5 linked regions of the Homo sapiens genome follow. The protein of the gene in region 4 interacts with the protein of the main gene of each other region in a pairwise test. Each region holds a gene or a part of one and is shown on either strand. Other genes may lie near its edges. The genes, in order: SLC10A6, PTPN11, SCGB1D1, SLC38A1 and PMP22.

Region 1 (3,525 bases), on a different chromosome or scaffold from region 4:
GTGACAGAGCGAGACTCCATCTCAAAAAAAAAAAGAAAGAAAGAAAGAAAGAAAGAAAGAAAGAAAGAAAGAAAGAAAGAAAGAAAGAAAGAAAGAAAGAAAGAAAGAAAGAAAGAAAGAAAAGAGGTGTCCATTTATTGATGCAACTCAGGACAGCTCCCACTGTCTTGTCTTTTCTTTTCTTTTCTTTTCTTTTCTTTTTTTTTTTTTTGAGACAGGGTCTTAGACTCTGTCATCAGACTGGAGTGCAGTGGTACAATCATGGCTCACTGAAGTCTTGGCCTTCTGGGGTCAAGTGATCCTCTCACCTCAGCCTTCTGAGCAGCGCAGCTGGGACTATAGGCATGCGCCATCATACCCAGCTAATTTTTTATTTTTTATTACAGAGATGAGGTCTCACTATGTTGCCCAGGCTGGTCTTGAACTCCTGGGCTCAAGCAATCCTCCCACCTAGGGTTTCCAAAGTGCTGGGATTACAGGTGTGGGCCACTTACGCCTGGCCTCCCACTATCTTTGTTTGAGAACTTTTGATATATACAAGAGGTCCATTCTTCCGTAAGGATGTATTTATGTCCTCAGCTGCAGACAAAGGATTCTGACCACTGGTGGTGTTGGAGCCTGTGGAGCTCAGTGGCCAACTTTGACCTTTGAACTTTAAAGAAGTTCTTAGTCCTTCAGTAGAGAACCTGGAAATAGAACTTCAAATTGTTCAGGTCTATCTGACATGTCTTGGTGGAAAACTGAAGGTCCTTTGCATTTAAGGCTTTGGAGACAGAACGGAGACTGAATTCATGAGACTTCATGCAAGCTTCCATGTCTCTATGTACTTTAATTTCCTTATCTATACAATGAAAATAATACTCACACATAGAGTTATTATGTAGATGAAAAGAGAAAATGTATATAAAAGCATGAGACATAACACCTAGCACATAGTGCTCAATAAATACTCATTATTATTGGAAGGCAGCAGACAAGGGTAACATTTATATTGAGGGATGGAAAATCGGGCCTTACGCTCTATTCTAGGGTCAAATCTGTTGGTATGATCTTATAGCTCACTCCGTGTCCATCTGGTTAGCTGGATAATTTTTTATTTCTTTCAGTCGGAAAGCAAGTGTATACTTTCATAGTTTTGAGGGTCAGAGTTCCTGATTTTATGGGATTTTTGAAATTAAAACAATTTATAATAACTTAATCTCCAATTGCAAAATGTTATTGACACTGCATTTTAATGTAATGTGTATATATGTAATTTCCCTGCTTTAAGGGAGGGTTCAAGACTGACCTGTTTGTCTAGACTTGCTGAATATGTCTCATTATTTTCTGTAATAGTTTGGAGATGATGATGCTATTCTTCTCAATGCAAGTGGAATCTTGTTATACTGAAGTTAGATTTTGCCAAAAATTTTCCTATACATGAAAAGTCAAGAGACTTACTTAGCCACATCCTCTGTTTATGCTACATTGGAATTTCATGGCTAAAAATACAAGGCGTGACTTTCCACTGTACTCACAGGCATTCACTGTGTGCTTTTCCACCTTTGCTGGTATTTGTAACAGTTGGCAGAGCACCAGGATAACCTCTTGCCATCCTTGACCAATATCATGATCACCATGGGCTTGAAAATTGTATAAACATGGAAGCAATCACATAGGTAATCAAGGATATAGAATCAGTCGGATATAAATCTCACTTTGCTTCCCATAATCATGAGTCTTACCTTTCTGCTGTTTGAGCCAAAGCCATTCAGTAGAGAAATGTTGTGCTGGTTCTCCAGAAGTTCAAGAGTAAAGTGATATAATATGGAATTCCATTCAGGACTTAGTAATATGGAGAGTCAAGGAATGTAGCACTATCATAGACTAAGAATTTGGAAAAAACTTTCTAAACAGCCTCTTTGTGGATACAGAGGTTTGAGAGCTGTGGCAAACTGCTTTTTTTCTTTTAAATTGCCTACTAGTCAGGAAGAAATCTTTGCTTAAAGTAAGCATTCTTAATAGGATAAAATAATTTTGGGTTTCATATGGAATAAAATATAAGCAAGAACTGCTAAGACAAGTTTGAAAAGGGAAATTTATGTGGAGGTATTTGCCCTACCATATATGAGAACACTGTAATTAGTCTAGTATTTGTTCAGGAAAAAAGAAAGTTATTTATCAATGAGCTAGAAGAGAATTTCCAGAAAATATTTTGTGTACACTTGGGCATTTAATAAATGATAAAGGTGACACTTCAGTATAGTGGAAAATGGTTTATTTTAGTAGATTATATTGACACACTTGCATCTCAATATATTAATAGAAAAAATGGATTAGTCTCATACCTGTTACCATGCAAAATATAAATTTTAAGTCAGTTGAAAATATAAGCATAAAAGTAAAAAGTAGAAGACAATATTTGAATGCCCTCGGATCAGGGTAGGTCTTTAAGATAAGAAACTCAGAAGCCATTAAAAAAACAGCTCTGACTATATAAATGTTAATTATGGCAAGTCATAAGCAAAGTCAAAGATATACACCATGCTTGGAAAAAATACTTGTATTATTCATGGTAATATGAGCCCTAATTTTAAAAGAACTCCTACAAGTTGAGAAGAAGTCTGACAAGCAAGATTGTTTAGAGAGGAGGACACAGAAGAAGCCACTTGACATGAAAGAAAGCACAACCTGATAGAATCCAGAGTGTCGGCTGGGTGCAGTGGCTCACGCCTGTAATCCCAACACTTTGGGAGGCCAAGGTGGGTGGATCACCTGAGGTCCGGAGTTCGAGACCAGCTTGGCCAACATGGTAAAACCCATCTCTACTAAAAATTAAAAAAAAAAAAAAAATTAGCCTGGTGTGGTGGCGGGTACCTGTAATCCCACCTATTCCAGAGGCTGGGGCAGAGAGAATTGCTTGAACCTGGGAGGCGGAGCTTGCAGTGAGTCAAGATCAGGCCACTGCACTCCAGACTGGGTGACAGAGTGAGCTCCAGCTAAAAAAAAAAAATAAAAAAAAAAAATAAGAGTGTAACAAGAGTGAGATCAATTTTTCAATGCTGGCATGACAATTAGAAGGGACTGATCACATCCGGAGTAGGCAAGATTGTGAAATGTAGCAATCTTTTTGGAAAGTAGTCTGAAAGTATATATTAAAACAAAAAACACAGACTTTTACATAGCAATTCCACCTTGGGAATTCACAGAAAGAAAAGAATCATTTCAAGTGAAGTATGTATGAGAGTGTTTATTATAACATTATTTATAATGGCAAAAAACTAAAAGCAACTGACCTATGGTTAATGAAGTGATTGAAGAAATTATGGCATATTTAGATTATGGCATATTTCGCAGTTCTTTAAAAGAATAAGTTTAAATGTATTGGTCTGAGAGGATGTCTGTGATAGATGAAGTGGGAAAAAAAGCAAACAAGTTGCAGAGTAAGGTATATTATAAGGTTCCTTTTTTTATTTTTAGAGACAGGGCCTCCTTCTGTCCCCAAAGCTGGAGTGTTGTGGTGTGAGCATAGCTCACTGCAGCCTC
Region 2 (3,525 bases), about 66 Mb from region 4:
GAGCGTGGTGGCGCATTCCTGTAATCCCAGCTTCTTGGGAGGCTGAGGTAGGAGAATCACTTGAACCTGGATTTATAATGTATGTAAATCCACCGCGAAGGTTGCGGTGAACCGAGATCACGTCATTGCACTCCAGCCTGGGCAATAAGAGCGAAACTCCATCTCAAAAAAAAAAAAAAAAGATATGCAAGGTAAAGATACTAATAAAGACCTTTGTGTTGAGTTGGTTGACATGTGGTTATTTCACCCATCGTATTTCTTATAGGGAATAGGTAAATTCGTTCCTTGGGTTTCTTTCAACACTTAGGTAAAATCCGACGTGGAAGATGAGATCTGATTTTACTGGTGTAACTCTTTATTTGTCCCCTTGCCTCCCTTTCCAATGGACTATTTTAGAAGAAATGGAGCTGTCACCCACATCAAGATTCAGAACACTGGTGATTACTATGACCTGTATGGAGGGGAGAAATTTGCCACTTTGGCTGAGTTGGTCCAGTATTACATGGAACATCACGGGCAATTAAAAGAGAAGAATGGAGATGTCATTGAGCTTAAATATCCTCTGAACTGTGCAGATCCTACCTCTGAAAGGTCAGTAACATTTTAGTGACCACAAAGTCTGCTGCTCCCTTGTGCCCTGAGTGTCAGAAATGCATGACGGTCTGTGTATGACTCTCTGACTCCAAAGGCTTGTGACTGTTTTTTGAGCTGTAATCTTTAAAGAATTACTAAAGTGAGACTAATAGCATCAAATTATTTTCAGAGTACCTTTTTCCTGCAAAAGTTTTAATCAGTGTTACTTACACTCATCCTATAGGGGTTGCATACCATTCCTGCATATACTTGGTACGTGTATTAGTTTTAAGACTTATTGAACTTCAGCAGATAATCTTTGAGAGTTATTAGAGGAAAACAAATGATAATGGAGACACCAAAATAGCAGCAGTTTTCTATGGTGGCTCTCGACCAGTTATTCAGCAATGTCACCAACAGATGTCAGTTTAAGCTCAGAAGTGGAAAAGCAGAGAGCTCAGAGGGTCAGCTTTTTCATCAGTTCTTTTAATGTTATCACCACAATTATGTGAGAATGACCTTGCTTAGAGAAAATTATGTTATTTTCGAGATCTTTCCCCCTGTGTTGGAACTAGGCTGATGAAAGCATGGGCTTGACTTATTTATTGATTGTATTCGTTTTGTACATTCCCAATCTCCTCTCTGACTTGGTGCAAATTCAGGATCTCTTAGTTAGTTTGTATATTTTGTGTCTTCAGGTATGATTTTTTCAGCTTATACCTTTATGTCAGTGCTATTATGTGCTGATAATTTGTTTCTCTAGCTACCACCGTAGCTTCAGGCAAAAGGCTGTCAGCCAACTCTGTACAGTTTATTTCTAAATTTTACTGTTTTCAGTTGAGTATGGATGAAGAATAACTCAAAGTTTATTCTTTTGATGATGAGCCCTTAACACCACCTGCCATGATAGTACTTGCTTTCTGACCAAGATCCTGAGGGAAAAAGCCACTTTATTATTAGAACTATGTTAAGATGCTTCCCAAAAAACATGGAGCAGTATTGTCTCAAAGTCTGTCCTTGGATGGCTTTGGATGCCTACATCAGGACTGTCTGATGTGCTGGTTAAAATGCAGATTCCTGGGCCTCATTCAGACTTACATGTATTGATATTGCTGGTTGTGGAGCCTGGGAATTCATATTTTTAGCAAAATCCCTCATTTTTACTCCAAGTCTTATGTGCATTATACAGTTTGAGATGATCACCCAGGATATAGTCCAAAGACACTGGAGGCTGTTGAAGTATAGGTTGTATATATGGAAAAGGTTGGAATGTTTGAATTAATTTATAATGAAGATCCTTTTTAATTGAGTGTTCACATGCCAAGGCAAGGACAAACATTCAAAATGATTTTCTGTCTCTGTTACAACTTTTTCTTTCTTTTTTTTAATTTATTTATTTGAGATGGAGTCTCACTCTGTCACCCAGGCTGGAGTCAAGTGACGCGATCTCGGCTCACTACAACCTCCGCCTCCCAGATTCAAGTAATTCTCTTGCCTCAGCCTCCCGAGTAGCTGGGACTACAGGCATGTGCCACCATGCCCAGTTAATTTTTGTATTTTTAGTAGAGACAGGGTTTTGTCATGTTTGCCAGGCTGGTCTCAAACTCCTGAACTCAGGTGATCCGCCCACCTTGACCTCTCAAAGTGCTGGGATTATAGGCGTGAGCCACCGTGCCTGTCTCTATTACAACTTTTTATTACAACTTCTTTATTTTGACTTTATTTTTACAAATTATTTATTTATTTTTTTTGAGATGGAGTTTCGCTCGTCACCCAGGCTGGAGTGCAATGGTGCGATCTCAGCTCACTGCAACCTCCGCCTCCCAGGTTCAAGTGATTCTCCTGCCTCAGCCTCCTGAGTAGCTGGGATTACAGGCACTTGCCACCACACCCGGCCAATTTTGTATTTTTAGCAGAGACAGGGTTTCACCATGTTGGTCAGGCTGGTCTCGAATTCTTGACCTCAGGTGATCCACCTGCCTCGGCCTCCCAAAGTGTTGGGATTACAGGCATGAGCCACCACGTCCGGCCGACTTTTATTTTTTTTTCTTGAGACAGGGTCTTGCTCTGTCACCCAAGCTGGAGTGCGGTGGCATGATCATAGCGCACTGCAGCCTCGACCTCCTGGACTCAAGTGATCCTCCTGCCTCGGCCTTGTGTATAGCTGGGATTACAGGCAGTTGCCACCATGCCAGGCTAATTTTTAATTGTTTTGTGAAGATGGGGATTTCACTGTGTTGCCCAGACTGGTCTTGAACTCCTGGCCTCAAGTGATCTTCCTGCCTTGGCCTTCCAAAGTGTTGGGATTACAGGCATAAGCCACTATGCATGGCCTGTAACTTCTTTAAATGGCTATAATTAAACAGTTGGTCCTTTTAAGATTGGGCAATGGACGAATGGCAAATTGCATTTTTAAAAGAGGAGGGATTTAAAAAAAAACAGGAAAGATTGGGGCATTTGTCTCTAAAGGACTGTGGACTCATTTAAGAAGTTTAGTGGTCATTCTTACCATCTTTGTGGTTTTTCCTGCCTGCATGGGATGCAGATTTTCTGTCTCAGGTGGGATTGATCAATCCCTTGGAGGAATGTGTCTACTTTTTAATTGTGTTTAGGAGAGCTGACTGTATACAGTAGTTTTGTGAAAGAACAACATGAACCCATAGTAGAGCTAAATTCTTTTTTATTTTTTAAAAACTTTAGGTGGTTTCATGGACATCTCTCTGGGAAAGAAGCAGAGAAATTATTAACTGAAAAAGGAAAACATGGTAGTTTTCTTGTACGAGAGAGCCAGAGCCACCCTGGAGATTTTGTTCTTTCTGTGCGCACTGGTGATGACAAAGGGGAGAGCAATGACGGCAAGTCTAAAGTGACCCATGTTATGATTCGCTGTCAGGTAAATCTCCAGTTGAAAAATGGGTCTGGCAAGATGTTACCTTTGGGTGATTTTTCTGC
Region 3 (4,079 bases), on a different chromosome or scaffold from region 4:
TCCAGCCTCCCCATGTGGGAATTCTGCCTCAGGGCCTGAGCACCTCAATCCTGAGCCTGCAGCTTCCATGAGCATTTGCAGCTAAACCTCAGGACAGCAACCCAGAGGCAGCCAGGCTGAGAGGCCCCTGGAAAACCTCTGATTTCTTGAGAAAGACAGAGTGAGAACATCCCGCTTCCATGGCACTGCAGGAGGTAGAGTAGCGAGGGTCTTGGCCCACTGGCCGTGGTCAGGAGAGCATCGTGGGTGAGGAGGGGAGCGTGGAGTCTGAGGAGCTGGGAGGGGCTCCTTCCTGGTTCTGCAGAAGCTGCAGAGAAGTCCAGCCCTCCAGCGCAGCATCTGCAGGAGCCCCTGCTCTAGGTCCCTCCCTGCCTTCTTCTCCCTGTTCAAGGCTCCCACACTCCCCAGTACATTCCACAGTGACTGTGTGAGGTCCACTTGGCCTCAGGAAAGTCCCCAGGTGGAGAGACAGTTGTGCTTGGCCCTTCACCACCCCTGCCTGGACCCAGGCTCACTCCCCATGTCCTCAGCACACTCTGGGGACACGGCATCCAGGTAGGTGACCTGAGAAGGAGGAACATGCAGGAGGCTGTGTGCAGCTGAGTTGAATTCTGCAGGTGAAATGGTAGCACCCACCCTGTGGTCCCAGGTGACCTTCTCAAGCGGTGACCAGTAAGGCAGGTGCCCCACCACCTGTGTCCCTCACAGAGCAGCAAGCAAGCTGACCTCACTTCACACTGTGCCGCTGACCAGAAGCCTGGACACATGAAAGAGACAGAAATTACCAATGTTTTTGTAATTAGCACTCTTTTCTCATAGGCCATCGTATCCACGCATTTCTTCACTTCCATCTTGGCTGCAACAGCTTCCAGAGGTGCCTTAAATTTGGCAAGTTGGAACTTGAACACAGGTTTTCCAGCTAATAAGAAGCCTGTGATTTCAGAACCAAGAGCTTGGCAGACCACTGCATTTGCTGGAGCAAAAGAATAAAAATATAATTTGTGTAAGGAAATCAGTGTTTCTCCCATGCCTCCCTGATGTCAGACCAGACAGGAACCCCAGGGTTTTAGGCTTCTATTCAATAACTATGCCAATGACAATGTCAGACCCAGGAGGTTGTGACTTCCTTGAGGTCACACAGCAAAGGGTAGAGCTAGAACTGGAGAACCAACTTCCTGATCACTCATTCAGTCTTTGTTTTTTTTTTAAAGCACACTCATTACTTTCCAAAGCTTCTCTGGATGGATGGCCAACGTTCTCTTTTCTAGATTTGAAAATAATCACTTTTCTATGCCAGTTAAGTGACACTTTATTAGTCTTGGACATTGGTGAAGAGGAGGCTTTGAGTAATCAAATTTTGAAGTGGAATGGTAGAGTCAGAATCCTATCAGAAATTAGAGAAATGAGTAAATCTGGAACAGAAGAAGTTAAAATTATTGAAATGTTGAAGGTGATGTTTTGAGAACAAGTTGTAGAATTTAGGCTTATGTGATTCAATACAGACAGAGCTAAAAGGTAAACAAATTAAAACAAAATAAAATAATGTGAATCAGTTTTAACACACATTAGAAGCTTATACAGGAAATTGTACTTGGCCCATATTCTGCAGCAGCATCTAGAATATTTGGAGAGGATGAGAGGAGGGAACTGAGGCTCATTCCTGCTCCCACTGGGAATTTTGGAAAGACCTGGAGTAATCATTTTGCTTGGTCTGGAATCTCCATTCACCTAAGTCTTTTGCAAACACCATGCATCCAGAAAGCGCCCCACCATGCTCAACATGACCCCTGACTACCCGACTTCAAACTGTGGGGAGAATTTGGAGAGGGTAGGATCGGGGTGTCACAGGGAAACAGGGAGAGGTTCAGAAAAGAAGAGGAAAGAGAAAAATCAGAGTCTGGATCGGTCCTGACAGGGGAAAGGAAAGTACCCAAATGAACTGGGGAAAAATCAGCCAGAATTAATTTTAGAAAAATAGAAGTTCTGAGGCTAACCATTGTAGTATTTCTACCACCATTACGGTAGGACCCCTAGAAGATATATTGAGTGCTGCTTATTCTAAGAATTCATTTGCAGGCTTCTTATTGAGAGAATCAGAAAGCACCATCTCTTCTTGGACTGAGAGTTCTCCAAGGATCCTTCGAGATGTAACATTTTATGAGTCTGAATTTACAATGTAAGAAGCTGTGAGCTCAATTGGCACCTAAAGGTCTGGGGACGAGAATGTCTGACAGTACAGTGATTGGCTTCACATCCACAGCTAGACCCTTGGCACAATAATCCCACTCCATTCCCATTGCCACTCCCGGAAGAAGCTCTAAGCACCAGAGATAGGAGGAGGCGCGGGGAGGGTGAGCATCTTGCCCACGGTGAAAGGGCTGAGAAGTGGCTGAGCCCAGAGTCACCCCAGACCTCACATTACATCATCTGACACAGATCCCATCCAAGAGTGAAGCTCAGGCAGAATTCCTAACGTTCGCCTGCATTGATTTTCTGCAAAACTTCCTAGGTACTGGGGATTTGATGAAATGAGGCCCGAGCTTTATGAGCAGTTCCTTCAACAAGCACAGGATAAGGTTTGGAATTTTGGTTTGTTCCAGACCCCAACCTTAACCTTAATAGGTGACCTCGTGCTCAGAGAAGGGTGTGTCCCAAGGGCTGGTGCTGGACTCATGACTGATGTACTCACCCCGGTAGCAGCAAAGGGCCAGCGTGAGCAGCAGGAGACACACCGACAGCCTCATGGTGGCTTATTCTGCTGTGAGCTCGGCTTTAACCAATGATGAGTGATTTAGACTCAGCCCCGGGAGCCTGTGGAGCCGTGGAGCCCAGGGCTATTTGTACCTAGGGAGCCTGGCTGGTCCTGCCCACATGGGCATCTGGCAGGTGATGAGGCCTGGCTTCCAGCCCTCCCTTCCTAGCCAGGGCTGCTGCCATCCATCAGTGTCACATCCCCACACCTCCCTGCATCCTGAGTGGGGCGGAGCACGGGAGGGCAGCCCTGCAGAAACTCTGCTCTGTGCTCCAGGTGAGTGTCCAGGTGCCTCTGGCAATGTTCCCTGGAACCTCAGTTTGCTTTTGGGCTTTTGAGGATTATCTCTCTGTTCTTTATGTCAGTGCAAGGGCAAATGTGAGTTCTCATTTCAGGAGGACAGAAACCGGGGGTGCAGGAAGCTAGGGGCTGTGGTTTGGTTATAGGAGAGCAGGCACAGAAGAGACCCCACTTTGACCTCCACTGCATGTCTGACAATCAGCCACACGTGTTTCAGCTGCACATAGATCAAGTCTGAACCAGACCTATCCTCCCACTCAGCCCCTTCCATCCCCACCATCTTCACCACATAGGTACCTAAAACATAGCTGCATACACCCCACCTTTGGAGGATTTCCTTGGGGAAAACAACCACTCCCCCTGTCCTCTACTCTGTCTCACTCCAAGATCTGTGTCTTTATTTATGGGTGGAGTTGTCAACATAGCACAGGTTCAAATTTTCTGTCTACTAAAAGCAAGCCTCCAGTGACCTCTAGCCACCCATATCTCCTCATAGGGCTGATGGGATGATTAAATTGCCCAACTTTTTTTACCCAAGGAGCTGCTGGGGTGTCTGGAGGCAAACAGGCATCAGAAATACTGGTCTTCGCTTCTAGGCAGGGACGATAATGGAAAGGAAGAGATGGATGAACAGGGTGGGTGGTCACTTCCCTCTAACCTCTGGGCTCAAGTTTTCCACTTCTAACCCAGCTCTGCTGCCTGGGTCATCTCATTGTTGATGGAAAGCGAAGGCCATCCCCAGCAAAAGCAATAGACACCCTTCTGCCCTTCCACTGCAGTGCCATCATTTGGTGAGTAGGAAATCACCAGAAATTTGGCTCTTAAGTGAACACACATTTGAGAACAGTCACAGCCCAGGCCAGAGCTTTCCATTCTCTGCTCTGCAATCAAATCACTTGGGGCTCTTAAACTATACTGACTCCCCGCAGGCTGCTTCCCTTTCTGGGGATTTTGATTCAGTAGTTCTAGGGCGAGGTCCTCTTCTGTTTAAACTGCTCTGGTGGGTCTGATGGGCAGCAGTACTGAG
Region 4 (3,525 bases):
TGAAAACAGCCTGGAATATTTCAGCCCTTGAGAAAAATCTCTTTATTTGCATATATGTTTTTTGTTCTAAAGATATTTCTGATCAAGGATTGCTATTGTACTAAAAAAGATGGATACAGTTTTGTGTGTTTGTTTTTAAGCCCTAGCTAAGTTATGACTCCTAACAAAATACTCAAGGAAAAACAGAAATAATAAGAACTTTAAAGCATCACAAAGTGCTGCATATAAAGAGGATCATTTATAAAAAGAAATCTTAAAAATAGACTTTTATTTGAAAAGAGAAAATGTAATAAAAGACACTATATAATTCAATACCAGATGATGGTTACAGTCTCAGAACAATTCCTTTCTCCTCTCTGGGTCTCTGTCTCCTCACCTTAAAATAAGAAGATTGGATTAATGGCTGCTCTCTCAAAGACCTCTCCCAGTTCTCTGAATTAATGATTCTATACACTATTTCTTAATGAATCACTTCCAAAGATAAGAAGGTGGACTTGTAGACAAATCTCTTGAATAGTTGCCTTTGTAGGCCAATAGGCCTCAGTTCTAACAGGACATTGGAACAAACTGGGGAGCTTTAAAAAAATAAAAGTGATAAGGGGACACTACACACACAACAGTCTCTGACTTAATTGGTATAGGACAGGATCCAAGCATGGTTATTTTAAACGCTCTCCAGAGGAGAGCATTCTTATGTGCAGCCAATGTTAAGATCCCCAGATTGAGAATAAAAGTTAAAACAAAAGAAGCTAGTGCTCAGGTAGGTAAGATAAATGGGCAAAGCAGACTGGGCATAAGGAACTAGAGAACACATGTCCCATCTATTTCCCTCCAACTAGTGGCAGGAATGAGCCTGGTCTTTTTATTTTTATGTTTTTCAATAAATGCCAGAAATCAAAATTCTAAGTGAAATTCTGATATTTAAGAGTTGGCAACTAATTTCAAATAATTTTAAAAGAAAGCGTAAGTCACATAAAATATGCCCACAAGCTTAATTTGGCTCTCTAGCCACCAGTTTGCAACCTAAACAAAACCGGTTCAATAAATTAAACACAGTGTTTTCTCTGTGCTCTGACCTGTCTGTCTCCTGCTCAGAGCCTCTTTCTCCTATACCTTGGTCCATAGCCTATCCCTTTCTTTTTCCTTTCCATTGTCGCTTTCTTTTCCAACCTTCGCCATTCCTAAGAGATGGAAACTGAGATCTACACATTAAATCTTCATGTGGCTCTGGCTGTATCACTGGACAGGCGTCTATGCCTGGGAAAATTCAGGTTATAAACTGTAACCTGAGGCTGTGGCTCCATGATGTCAACAAATGGTTGGTTTAGTAAAATCAGGGGGAAAAGTCAGTCAAGCTCATAATTTCACACTACTAAGACTAAGACTTTGTCAAGCAACATATGGAGGTCCTCATTTAATTTCTGATGTTTGTTTTGTTTTCCTTGCTTTAAATCTAAACCAATGCATATCAAAATCACCCCTGATATTTTCTAAGCTCCCATATTTGGGCTCCATCCCAGGCCAACTAAATCTGAATCTCTGGAGTTGAAGTCTTGGCACTGACAGCTTTTAAAACACCCTAGATGAGTCTAATGTGAAGTCTGCTCTGAGACTCACTAATCTAAAACCATCACCTGACCCTGAAGATTAGCAGCATGCTTAATGCCAGATGACTATCATCTTGAATAGTTTTTTTAAACTTGTTCAAGGACTTTCTCAGCTCTGCTCTCATTGTATCTTCACAACTCTGAGGTACGCAGCACTGATACTATTATTAGCATTGGACAGATGAGAAAATGAGGCATAAAAATGTGAAATGAGTTGCTCAAGGGTACCCAGCTAGTTATTGCCAAAGACACATTGTAACCTCACTTGAAACAGAGTTACTTACTAATAGTAGAGGAATTCAGTGATTGGGAAGGTAACATGGTTAGGGGAACTCCTCTGTTATTAGTAAGGTTATCACTAGAAAACAAATATGTGATCAATTTTCAGAAATAAGTACAACAATATTTTTAAATTTAAAATCTTATTTTAAATCTAGGGTCAGTGTCTTTTTTTAGGTTATTGAAGTTAATCTTTTAATTTTACTTAAAATTTTTTTATTTCAATAGATTTTGGGGTATCAGTGATTTTTGGTGGTTATATAAATGAATTGAAAGTGATGAAATCTGAGACTTTAGTGCACTTGTCATCTGAGTAGTACACATTGTACCCAATCTGTAGCTTTTTATCTGGCATCCTCCCTTCCAACCTCTGGCTTCTGAGTCTCCACAGTCCATTATATTACTCTGTGTGCCTTTGCATACAAGATGTCTTTTTCGAAGTCTGTCACACATTCTTCAAAGTACTTCTGTGCACATACTTCTCCTACCTCCTCACCACCTTTCATAGATGTATATTCTCCCAGAGACTAAAAAGATCCAGGTAGTTTCCATCAAGATATATTTTCAGAAAAGTATTTTTAAAAGATTACATAGTCACAGAATTTCAGAGGTAAAGGGAACTTTACTGATCAACTTTCTCTCCCTCCTCTGGTAGATATGTTTAATTCAATACATATGGAATGCTAACACTATACCAAATACTTCACATTCATTATCTTCATTAAATCTTTACCATCACTCAGTAAAGTGGGTACCACCAACACTACCACCAGCATCATCATTCCCATTTAGCAAAAGAAAAAACTGAGGCTTAGAGATGCCAAACACCTTGCCCAAGATTCCTGGGTGAGTAAGCTGAGGCCTGATATTTATATTTGACTCAGAGCCTAAGCCCCTATTCACCACCTTCCATCACCTGGAGTAACAACAGTCCAAAATGTGAAGGATAAACAAATACTTATGAAAATGCCAGTGAGGTGATCAGTGAACACTTCTCCCAAGAGGTGGAAAAGTGGCATCAGGGATAGGCCATCACAAGTACACAGGATTTCAGTAGGCATTCTGGACTGGAATCCAATCCACACAGATATTGAAGCAGAAAAGTGATAGGGAGGGAATAGGGTGAACTGTGAGAAAGAAAATATCAAGAGAAAAAATTGGAAAGAGATGAGAAGGCAGATTGTGAAGGGTCCTAAGTGTATGGCTAAGGAATTTAGACTGTATTTGTGTGCAATGGAAACCCTCAGAGGTTTTTAAAAGCAAGGTCCTTTAACAAAATGTGAACTGAATTTTAGAAATATAAACCTCATGAAAGAATGGAGATTTAATTAGGGGAGCATAACTTGATATGGAGGAGAGACCAACAGGAAAGCTGTTCCACCTCAGTAACTGGCTGTTTCACTCTTAACCATATGTTGTGCTTGCATTTTTCTCCACCGCCCACTCCCACTGCCCCTAGGTTGTTCAAGGCACCTCTATATCTGTTTCATATGTCTCCAAGTCTAGGTAAGGTGACAGGGACCTGAACTTGGGCAGTGGAAATGGAGACAAGAGGACAAGTGTGAGGGGTATTTTCAAGGGCCTGGTCACTGCTCAAAGTGGGAAGGGCAGTACGAGAAGGAGAAGCAGAGAAGAAAAA
Region 5 (2,524 bases), on a different chromosome or scaffold from region 4:
CCTTCTTTGGGCTTCAAATGCAACCTTGGGGCACCCAGGGAAATGGAGCTTGCCTTTGATCATCTTCCCCCTCTGCAGCGTGGCTTCCCAGTCATACTGTCGGCTGCATCCTTATTCCTCACTTTCTTTTTCCCTCTCCACACATTTCTTTGTCTGTTTGGCAGTGCCCATAGGCATTGCTTGCTTCACCTGGTATGTGGCAACTCTGTTAGGGGGACCATAGGCCCCTGTGGTCTGCATGGAGCTTAATCCTTTTACCATGGCGTGACTCCAATAATGGTAAAATGTCACTTCACTTCCATTGGCTTTAGGTAATGCCACCACTCACTTGTAGAGTGGCATATAGATTTCCAGGGGTTTCCATACCCAACCACCCTTGGAAAGAGACAGGTAGGTTTTTCTTGCAGCCTGAATGCCTGCTGGCCATGTAGTGTGGCCTGGGAATTGGTGACAGTGAAAGAAAGAGAAATAGGGCAGAAAATGTAAAGAAAACCCTCAGGTATTAAGGCCTAGGTGGCCAAGATTGGAAATAGAGAGCAAGTTGTTTTCCTTGTTCCCATATTTTTGTGCTACCTCCTTTCAATTCTGGACCTGGAAGCAGATTTCCTTCCAGAGGTAGAAATGTTCTTCCTACCCAGCAATTGTCAGCATCCGGGGTGGCGGAGAGGGGGCCGCTCTGCCATGGACTCTCCGTCACCCAGCTTGTCCCTCTCCTTCCCCAGGTCTGTGCGTGATGAGTGCTGCGGCCATCTACACGGTGAGGCACCCGGAGTGGCATCTCAACTCGGATTACTCCTACGGTTTCGCCTACATCCTGGCCTGGGTGGCCTTCCCCCTGGCCCTTCTCAGCGGTGTCATCTATGTGATCTTGCGGAAACGCGAATGAGGCGCCCAGACGGTCTGTCTGAGGCTCTGAGCGTACATAGGGAAGGGAGGAAGGGAAAACAGAAAGCAGACAAAGAAAAAAGAGCTAGCCCAAAATCCCAAACTCAAACCAAACCAAACAGAAAGCAGTGGAGGTGGGGGTTGCTGTTGATTGAAGATGTATATAATATCTCCGGTTTATAAAACCTATTTATAACACTTTTTACATATATGTACATAGTATTGTTTGCTTTTTATGTTGACCATCAGCCTCGTGTTGAGCCTTAAAGAAGTAGCTAAGGAACTTTACATCCTAACAGTATAATCCAGCTCAGTATTTTTGTTTTGTTTTTTGTTTGTTTGTTTTGTTTTACCCAGAAATAAGATAACTCCATCTCGCCCCTTCCCTTTCATCTGAAAGAAGATACCTCCCTCCCAGTCCACCTCATTTAGAAAACCAAAGTGTGGGTAGAAACCCCAAATGTCCAAAAGCCCTTTTCTGGTGGGTGACCCAGTGCATCCAACAGAAACAGCCGCTGCCCGAACCTCTGTGTGAAGCTTTACGCGCACACGGACAAAATGCCCAAACTGGAGCCCTTGCAAAAACACGGCTTGTGGCATTGGCATACTTGCCCTTACAGGTGGAGTATCTTCGTCACACATCTAAATGAGAAATCAGTGACAACAAGTCTTTGAAATGGTGCTATGGATTTACCATTCCTTATTATCACTAATCATCTAAACAACTCACTGGAAATCCAATTAACAATTTTACAACATAAGATAGAATGGAGACCTGAATAATTCTGTGTAATATAAATGGTTTATAACTGCTTTTGTACCTAGCTAGGCTGCTATTATTACTATAATGAGTAAATCATAAAGCCTTCATCACTCCCACATTTTTCTTACGGTCGGAGCATCAGAACAAGCGTCTAGACTCCTTGGGACCGTGAGTTCCTAGAGCTTGGCTGGGTCTAGGCTGTTCTGTGCCTCCAAGGACTGTCTGGCAATGACTTGTATTGGCCACCAACTGTAGATGTATATATGGTGCCCTTCTGATGCTAAGACTCCAGACCTTTTGTTTTTGCTTTGCATTTTCTGATTTTATACCAACTGTGTGGACTAAGATGCATTAAAATAAACATCAGAGTAACTCACTGGTCTCTCTTGAGTTTTTGTGGGAACTTGGGTGTGGGTACAAGGTGCCTGTTGGAGCAGGATGAAGAGCTTCAGTGGAAAGCAAAGTTGAGCTGGAGATTTGGGTTACAAGATGGTGCTAAGGCACCAAAATCATAGCTGTTTTACAAGCTACAGGGAGCACATGATGCCTTCATGATGTCTGTGCAAAGGTTTGCTAATTGGAGACAGTTGGGAATTGCAGCTGAAATGGAGGCTGTAAATGGACTGGAAGGCACTTGAGTATTCATTTAGTTCAACCCTCTCTGGTGCTCTGTTGTTTGATGACCCACATGGAAAACATGGAGGCATGTCATGAGCTGCCCTGATATACTGGGAATGTTGGCAGAAGCATCTCAGATCCCTCACCCTGAGGTATGATATGGTGAAAGGTCTGAATGATGGTGACTTGAGGCCACACTTGCAGATAAAACATTGGTTGGCACCAACTAAGCTCCTAATGCCATCCTGAAGGAGAGAA

Evidence for each region.
Region 1: the proteins of SLC38A1 (region 4) and SLC10A6 interact in binary tests that used the Homo sapiens proteins (3 or more experiments, as listed by UniProt).
Region 2: the proteins of SLC38A1 (region 4) and PTPN11 interact in a two-hybrid assay, tested with the Homo sapiens proteins (one large-scale study listed by BioGRID and IntAct).
Region 3: the proteins of SLC38A1 (region 4) and SCGB1D1 interact in binary tests that used the Homo sapiens proteins (3 or more experiments, as listed by UniProt).
Region 5: the proteins of SLC38A1 (region 4) and PMP22 interact in binary tests that used the Homo sapiens proteins (3 or more experiments, as listed by UniProt).

The regions. Positions count from the first base shown.
Region 1 is NC_000004.12:86,839,384-86,842,908, reverse strand, and holds part of SLC10A6 (sodium-dependent organic anion transporter), read left to right. Parts: intron 1-3,525. UniProt on the Homo sapiens protein: Transports sulfoconjugated steroid hormones from the extracellular compartment into the cytosol in a sodium-dependent manner without hydrolysis.
Region 2 is NC_000012.12:112,449,922-112,453,446, forward strand, and holds part of PTPN11 (tyrosine-protein phosphatase non-receptor type 11), read left to right. Parts: intron 1-396; coding exon 397-591; intron 592-3,273; coding exon 3,274-3,466; intron 3,467-3,525. UniProt on the Homo sapiens protein: Acts downstream of various receptor and cytoplasmic protein tyrosine kinases to participate in the signal transduction from the cell surface to the nucleus. Positively regulates MAPK signal transduction pathway. Dephosphorylates GAB1, ARHGAP35 and EGFR.
Region 3 is NC_000011.10:62,188,950-62,193,028, reverse strand, and holds the start of SCGB1D1 (secretoglobin family 1D member 1 precursor), read right to left. Parts: upstream 2,814-4,079; 5' UTR 2,745-2,813; coding exon 2,690-2,744; intron 974-2,689; coding exon 786-973; intron 1-785. UniProt on the Homo sapiens protein: May bind androgens and other steroids, may also bind estramustine, a chemotherapeutic agent used for prostate cancer. May be under transcriptional regulation of steroid hormones.
Region 4 is NC_000012.12:46,262,521-46,266,045, forward strand, and holds part of SLC38A1 (sodium-coupled neutral amino acid symporter 1), read right to left. Parts: intron 1-3,525. UniProt on the Homo sapiens protein: Symporter that cotransports short-chain neutral amino acids and sodium ions from the extraccellular to the intracellular side of the cell membrane. The transport is elctrogenic, pH dependent and driven by the Na(+) electrochemical gradient.
Region 5 is NC_000017.11:15,229,279-15,231,802, reverse strand, and holds the end of PMP22 (peripheral myelin protein 22), read left to right. Parts: exon of another isoform or gene 1-722; coding exon 723-886; 3' UTR 887-2,024; downstream 2,025-2,524. UniProt on the Homo sapiens protein: Might be involved in growth regulation, and in myelinization in the peripheral nervous system.